Linked DNA regions of Homo sapiens. The protein of the gene in region 1 purifies or fractionates together with the protein of each later gene. This does not show direct contact. Each region holds a gene or a part of one and is shown in the gene's direction. Other genes may lie near its edges.

Region 1 (3,439 bases):
CTGGAGTAGCTGTGCCCCACGTATCTCTCATCCTCCTTGGACCACTGGGGCATGTTCTTCTCATAGTGATGGCAGAGACACAGAAGGGCAAATGAAAATATTCATCATCTCTTAAAACCTAGGCTTACAACCGGCACACCGTCACTTCTGCCCACATATCACTAGCCAAAGCAAATCACATGCCAAGGCCAAAGTGAAGGGAAAATGAAATAGAGTTCTCCTAGGATGAGACCTTGGCAAATGTGTGAATTCAAGTAGGGATGAAGAAGTAGGGCCAAGATTACAATCTACCATTTCTTTCTTTCTTTTTTGAGACAGAGTCTCGCTCTGTTGCCCAGGCTGGAGTGCAGTGGCACAATCTCGGCTCACTGCAACCTCCGCCTCCCGGATTCAAGCTAGTCTCCTGCTTCAGCCTCCTGAATAGCTGGGACTACAGTGGCCAGCCACCACGCCCGGCTAATTTTTTGTATTTTTTTTTGTAGAGACGGGGTTTCACTGAGTTAGCCAGGATGGTCTCGATCTCCTGAACTTGTGATCCGCCTGCCTCGGCCTCCCAAGTTGCTGGGGCAATCTACCATTTCTTATAAGAAAGACCAAGCTGGGCATGATGGCTCATGCCTTTAATCCTAGCACTTTGGGAGGCCAAAGCAGGAGAATTGCTTGAGACCAGGAATTCGAGGTTCCAGTGAGCTATGATTGTGCCACTGCACTCCAGCCTGGGTGACAGAACAAGACTGTCTCAAAAAAATAAGTAATAATAAAAAAAAGACCACAACAATAATAAATGGCTTTTCTTTTGCTACCTATGAGGGTGCTACTTGTTCCTATTAAATATGTACTGTTAAAAGTAAGGGCTATGGCTTTCCTGCTCATTCCACTCCATGAATACTGACATTCTGGTTTCCAGTGGTGATGGCCATGGAGCTATTAAGGTATTTTCCCCTGCTCTGCCCTTCATTTGGTATTATAATGAATCATCAACATATGGGACATCCTAAGATGTCCTTGTTGCTGGGAAGAACCCAAGGCGCAGAGAAGTATCACTCCTTTTCTGTCTTATCTCTTTTTCTCTCTCTTTTTTTCTCATTAATGAAAAACAAATTAGAGATGAAAATATTTTTCCCCTTCTTGGTTCTCCAGCTGTATTATAAAATTCTTCAGAGGCAAGGCCGTATCTTCTCTTTGTTAACGTCCCTTCCCCCTCTCCCAGCCTCCTCAGGCAGTGTGGTTGATACCTTCCTTGCCTGCCTGTCTGATCTCAAATGACTGTTCCCGTTCTGGTTCACTGATCTTGGCTCTGCCATGCTCCTCAAGGCAATAAATACCAGTCTGGACTGCCCAGAATGGAGTCCTCTGTCTGTTTTACCAGTTGAGAAGCCTCCTATCCCTCCCTGATCATTCATCATTCATGAAGCTCCTTCTTCTGCTTTTGACTGTTACTCTGCTCCTGGCCCAGGTCACCCCAGGTAAACAGGATCTCCAGAAGGGGATGGGAGTCAGGAAACCTGATGCATGTTCAGAGAACTCTGGGGACTCTGACAGGTTGGGCTGGGAGAATGGCCTGGTAGAGCTCATTGAGGCCTTTAGGTAGTCTCTCTAGTTATGGGGAAGTTTGAGTTCTCTGGTACCAAATGGTCTTCCCAGTGCCCAGTACTTGACCATTCCAACCTTATCTCTGGTTAGCTCTGGAAAAGCTGAACGTGATGACCTGAGGATGGGATAGGGTGTAAAGAGAGAGACTTGGGTATGGAGTATAGAGAAAATGGGGACTTTTTCAAAAACATTCATTGAAAGGATTTGAATTTTGATGCATTGTTGCCTCTAGGAAAATGGTTCTCAAATTTCTGATTGTTTGAGGATTCTGATTCCACTTTTTAATGCAACCTCAAATCATCTGGGTTACCTTAGGTTGTAGGTTCCCTGGAATAGCTGTTCCTAATTCCCTTGACTGGTTGGGGCCAGAGAAAAGTCCCAGGATGTTGTGAAGAAGGCAGTATGATATTCTTGGGAGTTTTAAAGGTGCCCTAGAAGACTTACAGATGTTAAATGAGTTTATTTAATATTCCTGTCACCTTTCATTGATATGGTCAGAGGGGGTACCAAAGAACAATGAGAAAAGGTGGCTAATTGCTACTGGGCACCTGGGTACATTATAATATGGGGGAGATAAAACCCTTGGGAGAGGGGTCCTCTTCCCCCTCCCAAGGAGCTGGCCAAGGAGGGGAAGCTATCCAGTAGGTCCTATGCCACTGAGTTGGGGGGACTCTGGGGGTTCTAACAGGGGGCACAAGTGAAGGAAGAAAGCGTAGTGGTCTATAATCTCCCTTAAACTTAGGGGATCCTGTGTAAGAGCTTCTTCCCCACAGACCTCCTCATTTCCCTCCTACTCCTCTACTGGGCTTTAGCCTCTTCCTTTCACACCTTTCTGCTTTCTTTCAAAACTGACTCTATTCTCTTCTTCCCTTTTGTTTTCAGTCATGAAATGTTGGGGCAAGTCAGGCAGGTGCAGAACAACATGTAAAGAAAGTGAAGTATACTATATATTATGCAAAACTGAGGCTAAGTGCTGTGTGGATCCCAAGTATGTACCTGTAAAACCAAAATTAACAGACACAAATACAAGCCTGGAATCAACTTCTGCAGTCTGACACCTCTCTTCCAACCTTGAGTCTCAACATCATGGGATCCTGCAGTTCTATTAAATCATTCTTGGCAACACCCTGTTTCTGTCTGATAGTTCCACCTAGTTACATTTAGAAACAAGTAAATAAAGAAGAAAGGTTGTGTGCGTGTGTGTGTGTGTGTGTGTGTGTGTGTCCGGTGTGCATGTTAGGAAGAACAGGATGGACCAGTAGGTGGTAACAATCTAAACCTTGCAAATAGCTCCTAGCCTGCTGACCCATAGCTGGTCCAAGAGGGCATGAATTAAAGAATATTCATTATATCTACTTGATTCCTGTTTTCTTCTAGACCAGCACTGCCAATAGAACATTCTGCCATGATGGAAATATTTCCTGTCTATGTTGTTCAATATGGTAGCTACTAGCCACATGTGGCTACTGAGCACTTGAAATGTGCCCAGTGTGAATGCGGACCCGAAGTTTTAATTTGATTCAATCGAGCTTTAAATTTATATAGCTAAATGTGGCTAGTGGTGATTGTATTGTATAGCAATGGCTTTAGAGTCTAGGCTGAGGCATGCTGTGGGTCTCAATCTATGAGTATTTTAGGGGAGTCCAGGAGGCAAGTATGATGAACACAAGAACCCATTCTTGGCCCATGGCCTCTTTCTACTCCCACACCAAAGGTTATAACTTTCCCTTGATCACACCTGCAGTTCTGCCCCTCAGGGGCTCTAGGGCAATGCCTCTTGTGAGTCTTCCTCATGGTGGACAGTGCTGGCATCAGGCCATCTGTGGATCCTTGCTCCATCTCTTTC
Region 2 (3,500 bases), on another chromosome or scaffold:
TGAGGTGGTATCTCACTGTGGTTTTGACTTGCATTTCCCTCATGATTAGTGACGTTGAGCATCTTTTCATGTGCTTGTTGGCCATTTATATATCTCTTGGGAGAAATATCTGTTTAAGTCCTTGACCTATTTTTGAATCAAGTTGATTGTTTTTTGTTGTTGAATTTTAGGAGTTCTCTGTATATTCTGGATATTAATCCCTTATTAGATACACAGTTTACAGATATTTTCTCTCATTCTCTGGGTTCTTTTTACTCTGTTAATGATGTCCTTTCACTAGATAGATGCAAAAAATGTTTTTAAATTTTGGTGTAATCTGATTTATCTATTTTTTCTTATTGTCATACCCAAGAAATCATTGCTCAGTCCCATGTCACGAAGGTGTTACCTTATGTTTTCTTCTAAGGGTTTTAAAGTTTTAGGTCTTAAAACGTAAAGATCCATTTTGAGTTAATTTTTGTATATGGTATTAGGTAAGGGTCTAACTTCATTCTTTTGCATGTGGATATCTAGTTGTCTCTGCACCGTTTGTTGAAAAGACTGTCTTTATCGAATGGTCTTGACGGCTTGATTGAAAGTCATATATGCAAGGGTTTCTTTCTGGACTCTCTGTTTTATTCTGTTGGTCTGTATGTCTGTCTTTATGCCAGTGCCACACTGTTGATGACTGCAGCTTTGTAGTAAGTTTTGAAATTAGGACATGTGAGTCCCCCAGCTTTGTTCTTATCTTTCACGATTTTTTTTTTTTTTTTTTTTTTTTTTTTGGCTATTCGAGGTCCCTTGAGATTCCATCTAAATTTTAGGATTTATTCACTATTTCTGAAAAAAAAAACAATCACTGGGATTTTTATAGGGATTACATTAAACCTCTAGATCAATTTGGGTGGTATTGACATCTTAATATAGTAAGTCTTCCAATCTATGAACATGAATGTCTTTTTTTAAATGTCCTCTTCAATTTCTTTCAGAAATGTTTTGTAGTTCTCATTGTACAGGTCTTTCACCTCCTAAGTCAATTTTTAAGTATTTTATTATTTTTGATACTATAGTAAATAGAATTGTTTTCTTAATTTCCTTTGGATTGTTCATTGTTAGTGAATAGAAATACAAGTGATTTTTATGTGTTTACTATGTATTCTGCTATTTTGCTGAATTTGTTTATTAGTTGTAACAGTTTTTGTGGAATTTTTAGGGTTTTCTACATACAAGATCATATCATCAGTGATCAGAGATAATTTACTTATTTCTTTCCAATTTGAATGCCTTTAATTTCTTTTTCTTGCCCAATTGCTCTGGCCAGAACTTCCAGTACAGTGTTAAATAGAAGTAGTGAAAGCAGGCATCCTTCCTTTATTTCTGACCTTAGAGGAAAAGCTTTCAGTCTTTCACCACTGAGTATGATGTTCACTGTGGCTTTTTCGTATAATATGGCTTTTATTATGTTAAGGTTGTTTCCTTCTATTCCTAATTTGTTGAGTGTTTTTATCATGAAAGGGTATTGAATTTTGTCATATGGTTTCTCTGCATCAACTGCAATGATCATGTGTGAGTTTTTTTTCCTCCTTCATTCTGTTAATGTGTATTACATTGATTGATTTTTTTTTTTTTGTATGTTGAACTATCCTTGCACTCCAGAAATAAATCCTACTTGGTCAATTCATTAAATTCCATTTAATTGCATCAAATTATACCAAATTTAGTTTACTATTAATAGTATTTTGTTTAGGATTTTTGCATCAATGTTCATAAGGAAGACTGGATTGTAGTTTTCTTTTCTTGCAATATCTTTGTCTGGTATTGGTATCAGAGTAATGCTGGCCTCATAAGAATGAGTTAAATAGTGTTCCCTTCTCTTCAAGTTTTTTGAAAATTTTGGGAGGGTTTGGTGTTAGTTCTTTATGTGTTTGGTAGAATTCACCAGTGCAGCCATCAGGTCCAGAGGTTGTTTGTCAGGAGATTTTTGAGTATTGATTCAATCTCCTTACTAGTTATGTCTATTCAGATTTTCTATTTCTTCATGATTTGATTTTGTCTTGATAGGTTTTGTCTGTCTGGAAATTTTTCCATTCCATCTGTGTTATTCAAATTGTTGACATATAGTTGCTTATAGTACACTCTTATAATCTTTTTTATTTCTGTAGAATTAGTAGCAATGTTGCCACTTTCACTTATAATTTTAGTAATTTGAGTTTCTTCTTTTTTTCTTAGTCTAGAATCTAGCTTAAGGCTGGTCAATTCTGTTATCTTTTCAAAGAACCAACTTTTGTTGTCATTGATTTTCTCTATTATCTGTCTGTTCTCCATTTTGTTTATCTTTGCTCTGATCTTTATTTTTTCCTTCTTTCTGCTAGCTTGTTCTTTTTCTAGTTCCTTACATTGTAAGGTTAAGCTCCTATTTGAGACCTGTCTTTTTTAATATAAGCATGTATAGCCATCAGTTTCCCCCTTAGCACTGCTTTCACTGTCGAACAAGTTTTTAAATTTGTGTTTTCATTTTCACTCATCTCTAAGTATTTTATAATTTCCCTTGTGATTTCTTCTCTGATCCTTGGTTATTTAACAGGGTGTTGTTTAATTTCGTGATTTTTTAAATGTCCTTGTTGCTGATTTTTAACTTTACTCCTTTGTGGTCTGAAAAGATATCTTGTATGATGTAGATCTTTCAAAATCTATTGACACAGACTTTGTTGTTGCAACTAACCCCGTCATTGCAAGCCCTTCTCCGTCTGGTTGAAGTGACTTCCAGGAGATTTAAAGGGCTGGCACCCTTTTCTCCCTTCATTTTTCTCTTTTTCCTCTTTTGAGACGTAGACATTGAAGACTAGCACATTCAAAAGCAACCATATATGTGGAGAAAATAAAAAAGTCATTGCACATGCTCAGGGGAAGTCACGGGCTTAGAAAAGACCTAAGAAGACCTTAAGTTTATACTTTATGCTGATCCTTAGCACAGAGACAGCAACAATCAAAATTATAAAAACAAGAAAAACCAGCAAACTCTGGGGAAGAAAGAGATTTTGATTTCACAAGGCATACAAAGAAACTTTCCTATTTCAAAGGAAAAAAAAACAACAGAAACTGTCACTGAAAAAGACTTGGTGGTAGATCTACTAGACAAAGGCTTTGAAAGAACTATCTTAAAGATACTCAAATAACTAAGGGAAAATGTGGAGAAAGTGAAAGAAAATGTAGGAACAAATGAAAATATCAATAAAAAGCTAGAAATTTTAAAAAGAAACCAAAGGGAAATTCTGGAGCTGAAAAGTACAATAACTGAAATTTAAAATTCACTAGAGAAATGCAAAGGCAGATTTCAGCAGGCAGAATAAAGAATCAGGGAACTTGAAGATACAAAAATGGAAATTATTGAGTCTGAGGAGCAGAAATAAAAAGATTGAATAAAGGTGATCAGAGCCTAAGGGGTCTGTGGGATACCATCAAGCAAACCAACATAAACATTGTAGGAGCCCCAGAAGAAGAGAGAGCAAAGGGAGCAGAGA

Evidence for each region. The genes of interacting proteins can lie anywhere in the genome.
Region 2: the proteins of DEFB121 (region 1) and COL6A2 purify together in Homo sapiens (affinity purification with mass spectrometry; 2 studies listed by BioGRID and IntAct, with this or other methods). This does not show direct contact.

The regions. Positions count from the first base shown.
Region 1 is NC_000020.11:31,404,122-31,407,560, reverse strand, and holds DEFB121 (beta-defensin 121 isoform 1 precursor), read left to right. Parts: upstream 1-1,345; 5' UTR 1,346-1,408; coding exon 1,409-1,466; intron 1,467-2,475; coding exon 2,476-2,648; 3' UTR 2,649-2,716; downstream 2,717-3,439. UniProt on the Homo sapiens protein: Has antibacterial activity.
Region 2 is NC_000021.9:46,101,112-46,104,611, forward strand, and holds part of COL6A2 (collagen alpha-2(VI) chain isoform 2C2 precursor), read left to right. Parts: intron 1-3,500. UniProt on the Homo sapiens protein: Collagen VI acts as a cell-binding protein.